Regions from separate parts of the Homo sapiens genome. Here region 1 is linked to region 2. The links come from fine-mapping of genetic effects on gene expression. Tissue or cell type: whole blood. Region 2 holds a variant in brackets; the other region holds the start of a gene. All regions are shown on one strand. Distances are between the middles of the regions.

Region 1 (8,000 bases), 300 kb after region 2:
ACTCCAACCCTAGCCCATGAACTTACCACATGGGGAATCCCTAGAAGCTAGCTAGAAAAGCAGAATCCCAGACCCCACCCAAATCCTGCTGGACCAGAACCATCCTGTTAACAAGACAACTTCCATACACCTGAAAGTTTGACAGGACTACAATGCAGACCTAACAGTCAGGAGCTGAAGCAGCACCTCATCATCAAGCACATCTAACATTTCTGCTGCAAAACATACTCAAATGCACACCAAGTAGAATGAATGAAAACTGTAAATTAAGACTTCAAACTGAAGTCAGTTCAGGTTAGGTTTTACCTCTATATGAGCTCGTCTTTTGGTTTTTGGAGCTTTTTGGATTGGGGAATTGTGGATAAGAAATTGCACCCTTTTTGAAAATACTCCCATTGGAAAAGCCGTGCTAAATTTTACTTCGCAGAATTTTGCTCCTCTGGAAATACCAGCCAAGCCGGTCTAGTACAAGGATCACGTAAGTGACACCATCCTGCCCTCTACGGCAGTACCTTCTAGAACATTCTATCTCTCAGGACAGGCCAAGAGTCTGATAACCTGCTCCCATGTCTCCCAGCGCTTCTCATGCAGAAAGTTTCTCTTTAGAGAGCTTTTCTTAAAAAAAAAAAAAAAAAAAAAAATGAGAGGAGTGCCAATCAGCCAATGTCCACAGATGTCAAAGTGATGTCACCTGATGTCAATGTGACTTTAGGTGTCTTGTTAAGATTTCTGCAAACCGGATGAAAAGCTGGAATTCTACGTGTAATTCAGGCAACTGTGCGTGATAATACACTGACCTGCTTCCAGTGTTCCTCCGATGGCCTGAGTTTCTACATCATGTTCAGTGGGAGACCTGGTGGCACAGGGAGGGCTGGAAAGATGACATTCACCTTGGCACTTGGTAGAAGGAGTGAGTGGCATTAAGTGGGGAGGGAACTCTAGGAAGGCTGACAGATGCTCCTTTTTGAGCTGACAGATCTGAGCTCTTCGGCAATCATCAGAGACCCTCATGGCCCTATTTGAATCACAATTCCAGTCAATGAAAACATGAAACCAAGGTGTGTGGTCAAGACGGCTTGCTGCCTGGCATGAGAAAAACACGGCAATGTAAATTTGAACATCAAAGACTTCCATTTGGGTTTCCTCACTTAGGAAGAGGGGAAAAAATGAAATAAATGAGGATTCTTAATTGTCATTGATGGCTTCAAGTTTGACCCACTGAGGGATGAAAGAGGAAGAAATCATAGTGACAAATTGCCCCGAGTGTGGAGAAAGCAAGACTGCATCCTTCACCAGTGTACCATGCCAGAATTTACATTTGGAAGTAGCACTCTTAGGCCCTGTGAGCATACCGACAAGTTCATGGATCATTCACTCACTTCTCTTAAACAAGACAGGGAGGAACCTGCTTTCCATATCGACCTGCAACCCTTAGTCAACACCATTTCCAAATACACATCCCACAACACATGCATCAAAAAGTAGCAGGGGCGATTCCACTCCTATCTAAGAGAACTGTGGGAAAAAAATAATAGAAGACACAAGAATGTTCCCAGTGGCACAAACAGAAATGACACAAATGCCCATCAACAGTAGAATGGATAGATTGTAGTAGAGTCACATACACAGATGTGAGCAAAAGAAGCCAGTGGCAAAAGAACGTACTGTGTGACTCCATTTACATGTTTAAAAGAGGCAAAATGAACCTTAGAAGTCAGGTGAGCGGTACCCTTGTTGGGGGAGCAACTAGGAGGCGGTATGGGGAGGGGGACTTCCAGGGCACTGATCGGGACCTGGGTGCTGGATACGTGGGTGTGTTCATTTTGTAAAAATCTATGCATCTGAATATATGTACTTGCCTGTACATATATTAGACTTTATTTAAGTACCTACACACTTTTTTTTTCACTCTCAGGATATGCTGAAACATTTTTTTTTAATGGCAGAAATATTTAGATTAAAAAGTAGAATGTTCTGCCCTGGTATCGTGACTCTGACATTCCACGTGTCTTTCTCTTTACACTGGCCTGAATTCTTTTATTCACTACCTCCCTCCCCAGGTCTCTGTCCATCCCCTCTCATCTCCAACCCTCCCACCCACCCCGCCACCGCCCTCCGCTCCATCCAGGACAGAGAAAGCTCAGTCCTGGATGACCCAGCTCGATGACAGATTGTGAGGTGGGGAGTTTTCCCTTCCAGAGTAGGGCTGTATAATGTGTTTGTTACCTCGGGTCAAAGAGAACAAAAACAGTCTGCAGAGAGCATAATGCACAAACTCATCATAAGAGCAAGAAAGCCCCGGGCGAGCTGGCCAGAGAATAGATGAAGTGGCAAGCAACACTCGCAATTCACCTGCCTCCCTCTCCCACGATTCCCCCTTCCGAGGGGCCACTGCAATCCCCCTCTCCCCCAACAGCCCTCCAATCTGCAGGATTCAGGCTGGACAGAGGTAAGCTAAGGACACAGCAGAAGGGCTCCCCACCTCCTTCCTTTCCTCTTAGAAGTCTCCAAATCCAGGCTCCAGAAGGCGATCTAAAGCCATTTTCAATGAGGAAACCTGTCAGCCGAGCAAAGCCCTCTCACTCCTGGAGCTAACTGGGTGTGCACCCATGAATACCCTGTCCTCCTGCAAGGCACTCCCACTCCTCACTCTGTTGATAGGCAGAGTAATCAAGCCACCCCTGAGCACTTCAATGGGCCTGGGATGGTGAGGAATTGCTAACCTTAAGAACCAGCCTCTTTAAGAGTCTGAAACTTAGGAAGCAAAGACCTGGCACCTGCTTTGGGCACCAACGGAGATGGCATCGTAGTTAGAGGTATGCTCCCCTCAAAAGCACCTCTGCTGAACTTCTTAATTTTCCCCACCCTCAAAGTAGACCACTCACACACTCCAAAACCTCAGTGCCCTCTGTTGCAATCCCAGCACCCAGGATCCAAGCGCCAGGCTCGATTTTGAACCCCCCTGAAGTGAGTCCCTCTACCACCCGCCATGCTCCTCAAACAGCAACCCCCGGAGACCACACAGGGCCCAGCCCCGTTTAGTCTATAACTGCAAAACCACATACAAAAGGGATAGGGGACTCATCGCTGAGCCCCAGGGACCCATCCAGCCCGTTCATTTTTACACAGAGGGCAGCTGGTTGGAACTGTGCGGAGAAGCGGCACATCTGGGCATGGCACAGTGGCCAGCCAGCCTGGGCAGCAGGGTGTGTCCCCCCTCCTGGAATCTGGGTCATGCTTAGATAACTGCTAGAAAGCCCGACTAATTACCCACCCTTGCCTGCCTACATCTCGATAGATGTTAAGCCCTCCTCAAGGTTTATTTCAAGCAGGCAGGGATTTAAAGAAACACAGAAGATCTGCATTTTGATAGCATCTCCACAGAAGAAAATGTGGGCTTCACCTTTTTCCTCTGGATCTTTGATTAAAAAAAAAAAAATTTAAAAGGCATTTACCTACCTAAGATGTCCACATGGGTGCTGATTCTCCTGGTGTTCCCTCTCGGCTACTCGGGGTAGGAAAAGCTGGACATGGTGCTCTAAAATGGACCCACCACCTCATTTGCTGTTGCCCTGTCTTTCTTACTGAAAGTGTCCAGATCAGGTCTTCCCAGGCCAGGGGCCCAGATAAAGCAAGTGGGATCTCTTTCTCGACACCCCCAAAGATGATGAGGTTCCCCAATCAGCGGTTAAAGGCAATGGGACCTGCACACATGAGGGAAACATAAGCGCCCCCCAGCCCATCACTATCCTCTCCAGATAGGAACAGCGGCCCACCCTGGGGTACTCACTTCGGCCAGTGCTGGCTTCTCAGTGTGAAGGCCACATGGACTCCCTCTTGCTCTTAGCCCTGGGAGCCCCCAAGCGCCCTGCCCTAAAAGTGCGGCGGCCCCCCACCTTGGGGAAAGCAGTAGTGGAGAGGCTGTCCAGCTTCCCCTGCGTGGACTCCAGTGAGCGACGGCCAAGAAAACCCAACCAAGGCCCCCATAGTTCCCCTGCCCTGGCCAGAAGCGCCCAGGCCCGAGCCCGCTCCAAGCTCACTCCGTAGAACTCCAAACCCTCCGGACTTGGCTCGAAAGCCCCCACCAAGGCTCCTGCACGACCCCAGGCCCCAGATCTCATTCTAGAGTCGGTCCTTGGGAAGGATCCACTCTCCGCTGCCCACCCCCCAGCCCCCCACAAACCCATTCCCAAGCCTCCAGGGTAGCTCAACCCAGCTCGGGGTGGAGAGATTCTTTCACACTCCTCCCGGTGCCCCCTCTCCCAGCCCCTGGAAGACCCCCCTCCTCCCCACCTCCCATCAACCCCCGGGTCTCTCTCCCAGCCTGGAAGAGGGGAGGCGGAGGGAGGAGGGGGAGGCGCAGCTGCTGCTGGGGTTCGGGCAAAAGGATATGGCCATTCGGTGATCTTTTTGGCGTATTTTCTCACCACGTTGTCTTCGCTGAAGAGGAAGAGAGACCGGTTAACCGTGAGGCAGTTCTGTCGGACGGGGATGGGGTTGTAGAGTGCCATGGTCCGCGCTCTCTGCGCCATTGACTGCTTGTACATCCTTTGCGCCCCGGGCTGCCCGCCCTGCCGGCTGCCCCCGGCTCCTCGCCCGCCTCCGCTGCCCACGACCACCCCGGCGGCTGCCCCGGAGCCTCCTCCCCCGTAGCGGGCCGGCATCTCGTCTCCGAAGCGGGCCATTCTGCAAAGAGCAAAGGGCTCCGGGTTACGCTGCGGCGAACGATGCGGAAGACGCCGCCGCCGCCGCCGCCGCCGCTGATGCTGAGGCTGCCGGGGCTGGGAGCGCGGCGGCTGGAGCTACGACTGCGGAGACGCTCCACGGCCCAGCCCATCGGGCGGCGGCGGCTCGGCGCCTCGGGTCGGGGGCTCAGAAGGCGGCTGCCCGGGCCGAGCCGGGGATAGCAGCTCGGGACATCTTCCTGGCTGACCCCGGAGAAGGAGGGGCGGGAGGAGGGTGCGGGGGCGGGGCGCGGGGGCCCGGGGAGGAGGGGGGAGGGGAGAGAGAAGCGAGGCAAAAAATAACCGAGGAAGGAATCCAGGCAATCCCCAGTCCACCCACTCCGGAAAAAAAAAAAAAGAGACAGTTAAAAAAAAAAAATCCACCCAACGCACACCCCCTTTAAGACGCGAACGGTTTGCAAAGGACGCCCCCCCCGGGACGCAGTGGAAGCTTCAAATTCCTCCGAGGTCCGGGTCAGGCTGGCATCTTGCAAAAGGAGTGCGCTCGGCCCATTAAAAAAAAATAAAAAATAAAAAATAAAAAAATATATATATATTTAAAAATAAAGAAAGACGAAACCCAGGTCTGGGTGGGGAGGGCAAAAAAAAAAAAAAAAAAAATTAAGTGCCCTTCTGTTTTGCTGGAGTTCCTAGACCTTAAAAATGCTGAAAGATCTGTAGCTCCAAAAATAAAATAAAATAAAAACAAAGAAGATGAAAGGGAAGGGAAAGAGGAGGGAAGGGGAGTAAGACGCTCCAGAGGGTTCCTAAGGAGTCTTCACACCGCAGGGTCCAGGTTTAAAAAAAAAAAAAAAAATTTTTTTTCTTCCTGAATCACCAACGGCTGCCTCTTCTGCTCCCGGAGGAAGTGTGAGTGTGTATGTGCGCACAGCGTTTCGCTCAATGGTGCCTCATCTTGGGGTTAAATTGCAGCAGTGAAATCCTGAAAATTCCCAACAGGGGGAAAAGAGAGAGAGAGAGAGGTATGCGCCCTCCGCTTAGCCACTCAATAGCTGCCCCTGGATGCGGCAATGCCTCTCCACCCTCCAAATCCCTCCACCTCCTCCTTCTCTAGGTTTTGCTAAAATAAGACTGGTGTGGAGGGTTGCGGGTAGAAGAAGGTAAAGAGGAAAAAAAAATGGGCGCAAAGGTCTGAACCACTGGCCAGCAAACGGAAAAGGGGAGCAATTGATGAGTTTAACAGTAGAAGGACCCACCCAGAGTGTCGACACATGAGGGCCCGCGACCAATCGTGGAGGCTCGTGGAGGCGCGGGGGTACCGGGCTCAGCGGAGTTTGTGGGGGAGAGAGGGGAGCGTCGCATGGTTGGGAGGCAGGGAGGGGGGAATTGGGGTGCTTCCTCCTCCCCTGGGAGGAAAGCCTGTTTTCCACCCCGTTCCATTTCGGTTGCAGACAGCCGGACGCTCCCCAGCATCTTGCAAGGAGAAGGCAGGATGGAGGCAGGAAAAAAACTTAAAAGACAGAAAAGAGAAGGGGATTTGTGTCTAGAGGTGCGATTCGTCAGTCTCTAAACAAATTTGCTCTGTTTAGCAAAAGACCATTTTTGAAAGTGGAGAGAGTGGTTTGGGGTTACTTCTGTGAACGTTTCAAATCACAAGGACTCCTGCAAGTTGGAATTAAAGGTTTATTCTACCTTGGAGACCCCAGAGGTGACAAGTCTGAACTCCCAGGAGGAAATAATTAACCAGGTCCTAGTTGGCTGGATAGGGGTTCTGGGTGGTATAGTTTGCTTGATACTCACGTCTCTCCAGAACCACTTTGATTACTTCCCATTCTGCTTTTTGTGTGGTGAAATTCAATAAGCACAAAGAAAAATGCATAAAACATAAAGGTACGGAGTTAAGAAATTGGTCTGAAATGAACACTCATGAAATCAAGTCTAGGGCTAGAAATGGAACATCACCACCTCTGCAGAACCCCCTTTGCCAACACGCTTACACAGCCCCTTATTCCAGCAATAATCGCTACCTGACTTTATGGTATTCATATCTTGCTTTTTTAAAAAAAGTTTGACTACCTTATTATGCGTTCCTAACCAATACAATTTTACTTTGCTTCTTTTGGGCTTTTATATAAATGGAATAATCATATAGTATATATTCTACAGTTTCTTGTTTCTTCGGTTCAACATTATGTCTTTAAGATTCATCTGGCAGGGCACGGTGTCTGCGCCTGTAATCCCAGCACTTTGGGAGGCAGAGCATGAGGATTGCTTGAGGCCAGGGGTTTGAGACAAGCCTGGGCAATATAGCAAGACCCTGTCTCTCCAAAAACCTTTTTTAAAATAAAAATTAACCAGGCATGGTGATGTGAACCTAGTCCCAGCTACTTAGGAGGCTGAGATGGGAAGATCCCTTGAGTCCAGGATGTTGCAGTGAGCCAAGATCAAACCACTGCCCTCCAGCCTGGGCAACAAAGTGAGACTCTGTCAAACAAAACAAAACAAAACAAAAACAAACAAACAAAAAAAACAAGATTCATACATCCTAATCTGTTTCGAATTTTAGAAAAATTCACCTGTTTGTTGTCACACATGGCTGTGATTCATTCACTTTCACTGCTGTATAGTATTTCATCAAGAGAATATGCCACAATTTGTTTATCCATCATCTTGTTGATGGGTATCTGTTTTTTTTCCAGTTGGGGCTATTAAACATTACTGCCTCAGGTACCTTTGGTGCAGATAAGAATGCATGTCTCTAGGAATAGCCTTAGGTGTGGAATGTCTGGGTCCACAAGGTATTCATATCTTCAAGCTTATAAGATGTCATCAAACTGTCTTGCAAATTCAATGTACCAAGAAACCATTGAATTTTCATGGAGCTTGTATACGCAGAAAGGCCAAATGGAGAGGAATGGGAAAAGGATGAAAAAGGCAAATATTCTTTCAAGCCTTAGCTAGTTAAATCCTAGTTAATTCCCTTCCCCCCTCGCCACCCCACACACACATATCAATATTCGAGTTCTTTTGGAACACTCTGGAAAGATGATATGTCTTTATATAAAGTCCCCGTTCTGTGCCAATGCACCAACTATTATACATTGCCCCATAGCACTTTCAAGATTTTCTAACTTGTCACGATATGGATGAAATGATTAAACCAAGAGTGATTGGAATTGCAAGGAGATAGAATTGTGTGGGATTCAGGGAGAAGGAGGGGCTTTTAAGGCGCTCACCAAATATCAGTGATTTTTGTACTTGACATTGTTTCAGATATAAAAGGTGAACAGCAACTAATATGAAACAAGAAGCGAG
Region 2 (8,252 bases):
GCCTGAGAGTATGTGAGACTGGGGACTAGGCCAAGCTCCGCCCCTCTTCCTCATCCCCTGATCTTCCCACCCTGTGTCTCCTGGGCAACTAACACTCTAGCCTGATGATGTGCACTGTGGAGGCCTTGGGTCTACCTCTTGGCACTCGGGCATAGACTTGGCCTTTGAGTTCAGGGCTCATGGGGGGCTTCGGTAGTGAACTTCATTCCTGGGAGGACAGATGGCTGCAGCCTCATTGACAGCAGAGGGAATTGCACAAACCCTGGCTTACTCCAGTGGCTCCTGGACACACTCAACCCCAGCACCATGGGAGGGGGACCAGAGGCCAGCTCTGCAATGGATGGGCAGCTTGTTTAGAAGCCTGTGGTGGTTGCCAGATTGCCTGGTTAGAAAGTTAAACCCCTCCCTCCCTCCCTTCCATTCCATTTTTTTTTTTTTTTTTTTTTGAGACGTAGTCTCACTCTGTCGCCCAGGCTGCAGTGCAGTGACGCAATCTCAGCTCACTGCAACCTCTGCCTCCCAGGTTCAAGCGATTTTCCTGCCTCAGCCTGCCAAGTATCTGGGAATATAGGCATGCACCACCACACCTGGCTAATTTTTTTATTTTTAGTAGAGACAGGGTTTCACTATGTTGGCCAGGCTGGTCTCAAACTCCTGACTTGGTGATCTGCTCACCTTGGCCTCCCAAAGTGCTGGGATTACAGGCGTGAGCCTCTGTACCCAGCCTTAAAAAAAACAAACTTTTTTTTTTAGAGACAGCGTCTTGCTATGTTGCCCAGGCTGGTCTTGAACTACTGGCCTCAAGTGATTCTCCCAAAGTGTTGAGATTACAAGAGTCAGACACCGCACTCGACCTCAAAACTTTGACTTCTCGTTGGACTGATCTTTTCCTAGATGCCATTATTTTATTTATTTATTTTTACTTTTAATTTTTTTAGAGATGGGATCTTTCTACGTCACCCAGGCTGGAATGCAATGGTTATTCACAGGTGTGATCATAGCTGGTCTTGACCTCGTGGGCTCAAGTGATCCTCCTGCCTCAGCCTCCTGAACAGCTGGGACTACAGGTGTGTGCCACCACATTTGGCTTACCATTATTTTAGAAGGACTTACACCTGTCTTGCTATCTGGAGTCTGCAGATTTCTTACCCAAGGTAAGCTCAAGCAGGGCCTGTTGTCTGGAACAAGACCTGTTCAAAATGTTTGCCTTAATGCTACAGTAGTAATGGTGATAGTCAATAGTAGCTTGCTATGGGTCAGGTACTGTTGTGAGAACAGAAGCTCTCAAAGGGGTATTGGACTCTGGGGATGGCTGAAACACTTCGTGGGGGCGGGGGTTGGTGTCCACGAGACCAAATTATTATTATTAATTATCTAAGATGGAGTCTTGCTCTGTCACCCAGGTTGGAGTGCAGTGGCACGATCTTGGTTCACTGCAACCTCCGCCTCCTGGGTTCAAGCAATTCTCCTGCCTCAGCTTCCCGAGTAGCTGGGATTACAGGCACCCACCACCACGCGTGGCTAATTTTTGTATTTGTAGTAAAGACGGCGTTTCACTATGTTGGCCAGGCTGGTTGTGAACTCCTGACCTCATGTGATCCACCCACCTCGGCCTCCCAAAGTGCTGGGATTATAGGCGTGAGCCACCGCGCCCTGCCTTTTTTTTTTTTATTTTGAGACAAGAGTCTCATTCCGTCACTCAGGCTGGAGTGCAGTGGTGGGATCTTGGCTCACTGCTAACCTCCGCCTCTCAGGCTCAGGTGATTCTCATGCCTCAGCCTCCGGAGTAGCTGGGATTACAGTTTGTGCAACCACGCATGGCTAATTTTTTTTGTATTTTTAGTAGAGATGAGGTTTTGCCATGTTGGTCGGGCTGGTCTCGAACTCCTGACCTCAAGTGATCCATCTGCCTTAGCCTCCCAAAGTGCTGGGATTACAGGCGTGCATGATGCCCGGCCTCCTTGTCGCTTTCAAACAGTGCTTCTAGGAGCTAACAAAGAAGTGCCTCTTTGTATGATTCCCCAAGAGAGACCCACCCAGGCAGCACCTAGCCAAGGGACAAAGACCACTCCTATCCAAAAGCCCTTTGATTCAACTTTTTTTTATTTTTTTTTTCTTTTTGAATGTCATGCAATAATTCACAGTCCCAAGCCCACGGTTTTCAAACAAGGTAGGAAAAAAGGAAAAAAGAAGCAAAGGAATCGGTGGTGATGGTGGGTTTTTCTTCTTCTTTTGTTGTTTCAAGCAGGACCAAATGTCAGAAAAAAATGCCTCTTTTCTCAATCATTAATTTTTTTGTCCTTTTTAAAATTGTTTATTGTTATTATTATTTTTTTAAATTGATTTCTGCAGGCAGTAATAGTAGGGTTTGGTATAACCGGCAAGCACTCTTGTGTGTGTCTGAGAACGTGTGTGGGTGTGAGTGTGTCTGGTGGTGGGTGTAGGGCACTGGGATTCTGGTTCCTTCTGGCTTCTTTGCCGCACTCGGCCACCAGCTGTCTTCATCAGGGAAAGGAAAGATTCAATTGAGATGATAAAACTCATCAATAGAAGCTATTTTTTTCTCCCCGTTTTTTCTTTTAAAAATGTTTTTTTTTTTTTTTTTTTTTTTTTTTTTCATGTTCCCCAAAGTTCTCCAAAAATGGCTGAGTTAATTCAAATCCCTTGGCTGTGTGGTTTGTCTGCTCCCTGCCTCCCACCCGAGAGCCCCTGTCGTGGGTGGGGGGATCGGGGCTGGTTGGGGGGCGCCGTGGCTGCCCAGGAGGGTCTCTTTTGGCCGAGGGTCTCTGCGGGACACCCTTGTGGCCCAGCCCTGGCCTCTCCAGAGTCTGGGGTCTCCCGGCTGGCCCTCTCCCGGGCCCTCTGTGCTGGGCCCCCGCGGCCTCTGCGCGGCTCCTCGGGTGGGGTGTGTGCGTGGGGTGCGTGGGGGGCCGGGCGGGCGCCACCTCGCCCGGGCTTAGCACCAATCATCGTCACTCTCGCTGTAGGGTTCGTGCAGGCCCTTCCTGGAGCCCGGCCCGCGGGGCCTGGCCAGTCCGTGCGCCGGGTAGTAGCCGTTGGGGAGTCGCCGGCCGTGCCGAGAAGGCGAGGCGCAGGCCGGGCCCGAGGCCCGGGGAGTCCTGGGCGAGCGCCCGGTGGCGCCCGAGGACGCGTGTCGTACGGGGGGTGGCGCGTCGTAGGCCCCGGCCATGGCCTCCTCGCCGCCCCCGCTGCCCGGGCCATCGGCCTCGTCGTAGTCGGAGCCCCGGTAGTAGCCATGGTGCCGGGGACCCGGGGGCCCCTCGGACACGTGCGGGCCAGATGCCGGCCACCGGGCCCCGCCGTGTCGACAGGCCCTGGGGGACTCGCTCCGGGCCGGGCCTGGGACCCGCCTCTCCATCCTGGGCGAGCGGCCGCTGCTGTGGCCCCCCGTGGGCGGCCGATCTCCGGCCAGAGGCTCGGCCGTGGGGCCTGGGTACCTCCGAGGGCCGCTGGTGGCCGCCCGGCCCGGCCTGGCCACCGCCTGCTGCTGCTGCTGCTGCTGCTGCTGCTGCTGCTGCTGCGGGGGCCCCGAGCCGCCGGCCTTACGGATCACAGGGGAATAGGACACGTGTGGCCGGGGGGTGGAGGGGGTCTGGGGGAGCTGGCGGCGGCCCCGCCGCGGAGTGCTGGTACCAGATGTTGAGGGGGCTGGGCTTCCACTTACGGAACTACTGCCCTACACGAAAATTGAAACAAAGGAAATCAAAAAAAAAGATACAACAAAATCAAAGGAGACACGGGATTGGGAGGAAGAGAGGGGAGCGAAGGGAGAGGGGCCGGGAGGAGAGGGAGGAGGGGGAGGGGGAGGAGGAGGAGGAGGAGGAGAGGGGGGACACAGGACATTGAATGGAAAAAAGCAACAGCCACAGGGAGGAGGGAGGGGAGGAGGGGGAGTGAGACAGGGAGGGGAGGAGTCGAAAACCAACACAACAAAGTGAAAAGAGAAATGAGAAATGGAGTTTTGTAAGTTTCGGGGTTAAAAATAGCAGAAGTTTCAAAAATTACTCACAGGCGTCCAGAGGACAGAAATCATAATTGAAACAAAAACAGAAGCCGGGTTAAAGGAAAGTGAAAGGTCGGGCGGCACGGCCCAGAACTCAAATATGATCCACAACCGAGGAG[C/G]AAGCAGCTGCGGGCGGCGGGGAGGGGGCGGCGGGTGGGCAAGGGGGCTGGGGGGACAGCATAGGCAGCTGGTGTGGTGGGGATCCGTGTCCGCTCCGGCCGCCGGGCACCCCGGTGGCTTGGGGGCAGGATGGGAGGTGGTCACAGCCGGGATCCGGGGACCTTTGCCTAGAGTGGCTGTTGGATGGGGTATCCCCTTCTCTCCTCCCCGCCTCCCGGCCGAGCCCAGCCTGGGGTCACTTGCAGCCGCACCCACCTGCCGGTGCGCCATGTGCTCTCGGCCCTCGCTGGGCGAGCGGGACCAGCGCTGGTCCCGAGCCCGTGCCCGGCCGTGGTCCGGCCGTTCCTGGGCATAGCGGTCCTTGTCGGGGGGCGGGGGATGGTGGTGGTGGTGGTGGTGGTGGTGGTGCTGTCGATGCTTCCGATCCTTGGGCCGGCCCCGCTCCTGGTCCCGCTCCTTCGACGGCAGGTCCCCGGATTGGGTGGTCATGCTCAGGTCTGTCCCCAAGCCTGGGCCGGGTGAGGGTCAGACAGACACACAGGTGGTCGTGAGGGAGAGGTGGGGCAGATGCACACACAGGAGGCCACCTGGAAGGTGTGGGGGCCCTAGAGATCCCCTGAACCGAGGCAGGTCAGTGGGTTGGGGGGAGGGGGTAGTACCCAGGTTCCTGCAGCTGCTGCCTGGCCCCCTCTGTCCCCTCTCCATGGAGGCCTCTCCCTTTCTTCTTCCTTAGTGTCTCCTCCGCCCTGCCTTCTCCTCCCCTCTCCTCTCCTCTGTTCTGCTTGTCCCTGAGCACCACAGGGCTGCCCACCTGTGTCCACATCGGTGTAGCGGCCCAGGGAGCGCTCAGAGGCGCGGTGGCTGCGGTCGCGGCGCCGCTGGTGGTGCCGCTGGTTCTCCTCGGGCGGGACCCGCTCCAGCGAGTAATCGTCCAGGCGTCGGGCCTTGGGGCCCAGCACGGAGGCTGAACGCTTCATGGGGCTGGTGTCTGAGATGGTCTGGGGGAGGGGACAGGCCGGTGGGCTGGGGTCAGCAGCTAGCACCAAGTGGTCCCGGTCCTTCCTGCCCCATTGTGGCAGCCTGGTGGTGGCCTTCGGTGACTGCGGTGTGACCATCCTGGGGCAGGGGCCAGGGGATGCCATGGGGCCTTGGCTCCCCCTGATCAATCAGGGCTCTGGGTGTGGCCAGGCCTCTGAGGGTGGAGCCTGAGGATTCCTCTGTCCCTCAGAGACAGGACTGCTCCTTTTGAGCCCATCCTGGGTTCTGACCAGAAAGATCTGATCCTCACTCTCCAGTCCTGGGGGCCCAGCCACAGTTGGGCAGGCTCAGGCTGGCCAGAGGGAAGCCCTCTCCACATCCAGGGTGCAAACCTGGGAGCCCTGGACTGCCGCACTCATCCCTGCCCCAGCTTGCTCTCCTGGGAGGGTGAGAAGCCTCCGACTGTGGCTGGCTGACCTATGGGCTCAGGACCAGGTGCCCGGCATGGCAGCTTTGGGTCCTCCCGGCTAACGGGGCTGTGCTCGCTGCCCCCACAAGTCTGAGTCCTTCTGGTGAGGCCCAAGCTAGGGAGCTCTGGGTGGGGGTGGGGGATACCCAGGCACTGGAGGCTCTGGGGGCCCACTCTTTTCCCTGGTGCTTCATCCCTGGGTCAAGCCCTGACACACAGGTTTCTCTGCAGCAGGCAGAGGAGGGAAGGAGGGAGATGGGGCAGACGCCCGCCTCCCAGGGTCCAGCCCAGCTGAGCGCTGGTGGCCCTGCTCCAGGTAGGAGCTGCAGGACCAGGGGTTGGTGGTGGTGTCAGGAGAAGAAGCCCCCCAGAAAGAGGTGCAGAGTGGGCCAGGCTCTTGGAGAGCCAGTGTCCTCCGGCGTGGGGGGCCCTGAAGAAAAGGGGGTAGGGGTGAGGATGGGGATGGCCCCGCCCACCAGGGCTTATGGGTGAGGGGCACACACAGGACACCACACACAAGGATTGGGCTCCATGGAGGGGAGAGGGTGCGATTGCCAAAGAAAGGGTGGGGTCCGGGGACGGTGAGAGATGACGGGACTCCCTGGAGGGGGGGTGGGGAGGAAGAGGGGGCCGGAGCCCTGCTGGGCGCTGGGCAGGCGCGGTACATACACTGAGGTTATTCCCACGTGGCCGGCCCCTTCTCCTCTGTCACAGCCCCATGGGATGGTGCACACAGAAAAAACAGAAAGAAGAAAATAAATATAAAAGGCAAGAGGGAGAGTGAGGAGGTGGTGCATGGAGAAGAAGCCAAGGAGGGGAGTGGCACTGGCATCAAGAGAAATCGGAGGGAGAAGGCAGGGAGGAAAAGAAAAGTTAAAGTCCTGGCGGGTGGGTGTCCCAGGCCCCCGGGGCTGGGCGTCCTCTATTCCCATGGGTACAGAGGAGACAGACAGGAGATGCAGACAGACAAATGGCAGAGGCATGGGACCGAAAGACAGGACGGCGCAGCCTCGAGCCCCTGGCCCTGGGCTCTGCCTCATGCGATGCACACCCCAACCCCTGGCTCCGGCCGATGCTCAAAGCTTCCATGTGGTGGCCGTCAGCTGGGCTTGTCCCAACCCTCTCCTGGGGCCCAGCAGCTCGGTCCTGAGGGAGCAGCAGCATGCACGCTGGGTGCTCCCCAACCCACGTTCCCAGCAGCCAGAGGCCAGGCCCTCAGGTGACCCTGGTCCAGCCAGGCACAGCACAGCCTCCTGCCCCGTGCAGACGCCACACACGGCACACGGAAAGCTCGCCACAGCCACACATGCCACGCACCCGGGCCAGGCTCTCACAGCCATGCCCTGTTCTCCTCCAGAGGCGGGCTGCGTGCATGGGCCCCCGCTGTTCAGGCCGGGTGGGCAGCCAGCTATGCCTCTGGGCCCTCTGTCCCATGAGTCCAAGGCAACGGGATCACCTGCAGGTGGGCCTGGCAGCTGGGTGAAGCGGCCACACACAGACACACATCAAGCACACACCCCTGTGCCCCCCAATGACTCCCACAGAGACCAGACAGAAAATACGAGCCCAGCTGCCCCCAGACCCACCCCAGACTCTGCTACTGTATCCTAGGACCTGCCAAGTTCCCATATGCAGACACGTGTGCACGTACATGTGTGCATGTGTGAGTACATGTGCAGTGTGTATATGCCCACGTGCACACACGTGTGTGTATGCAAGCATCTGAGTAGGCGCACAGCTGCACATGTGTGTGCATGTATGTTGAGCATGTGTGTGTGTGTTTGTGTAGGGGTGATCTTCGTGGCAGGTCTCAGCTGGCCCTGTTGAACCCTGCTGCACCCACAAATCTTCCACAACCTCCCCTGTCTGCAGCCTCCAACCAGGGCAGCCAGAGACCATTTTGCAGTGGCCACTGCCCTCTGCCCCAGGGGGAGCACTTTCCTCTCTGTCCTCTGTGAGGGAGGAGGGTCTGCAGGTGCTCCAGGTGTGACCAGGTGGTGGGTGGGGCCTGCAGACTGCTTCAGAGACTGAAGGAGTCCCTACCCAGGCCTGAGTCCGGCAGGGAGGGGATGCACTGGGCTGCTTGTGGGGGGGCCTGGCCCTACCCAGTGCAGAGTGAGGGGTCCAGCCCCAGGGCAGTGGTGAAAGCCCTCACCTGGTTCTCTGCAGGGAGGCGGGGCATGGAGGCAGCCCGGCCCTGGCCTTCCATGGGGAGGTAGTGCTCGCTGTCGGAGTAGCCATCTCTGCCCATCTCTCGCATCTCCACGGACTGCGGAGCAGATGGCAAAGCCAGATGAGCTCTGGGGCCTGACCTCCAGATCCCTGGTGTCTGCAGAGGGAGGGAGCTGCAGGTGTGTGTGTGTGGGGGGCCCAGATCCCTTCCACCTGAACCACCCGGGCCCTGGGAGCCATTGGGGAGTTGGGGGACAGAGGCACCTGAGAGTTAGGCTGGCTGTTGGGCATGTCGGTAGGGGGGCCTTGTTCCGGACTCCATGTGCCCGTCTTCTGGAACATCTCCTGGGCACGCTGGGTCACCCAGGACGGGCTCTCCTTGAGGCCGCTTTCGTGAGCCATCCTGCATGGGGGACAGAGGCCGGGGTAGCAGTGGGCGCTTGGGCAGCTTCCAGAACGTGGGGACCACGGCACCCCCACACTCCACCT

Evidence for each region. PIP is the estimated chance that this variant, and not a neighbour inherited with it, causes the effect.
Region 1: CACNA1A starts here. The variant in region 2 is fine-mapped to the expression of CACNA1A in whole blood (TOPMed, PIP above 0.99). The same link has a PIP of 0.9 or more in NK cells, T cells and blood mononuclear cells.

What each region holds. Positions count from the first base shown.
Region 1 is chr19:13,501,540-13,509,539 of GRCh38, forward strand. It overlaps CACNA1A (calcium voltage-gated channel subunit alpha1 A), which reads right to left and starts at 4,940. Exons shown (of 47, transcript NM_001127222.2): 1 at 4,393-4,940. The coding sequence starts at 4,685. RefSeq lists an enhancer at 5,982-6,508.
Region 2 is chr19:13,204,357-13,212,608 of GRCh38, forward strand. CACNA1A (calcium voltage-gated channel subunit alpha1 A) reads right to left here. Exons shown (of 47, transcript NM_001127222.2): 42 at 8,028-8,166; 43 at 7,747-7,860; 44 at 6,261-6,296; 45 at 4,956-5,142; 46 at 4,400-4,653; 47 at 2,086-3,697. The coding sequence ends at 2,957. Among named protein-coding and RNA genes, the nearest start is that of IER2, 58 kb to the left of the region's middle. RefSeq lists enhancers at 3,884-4,153, 4,460-5,360 and silencers at 4,154-4,203, 4,284-4,473. The variant C/G (reference allele first, on the strand shown) is at 4,144.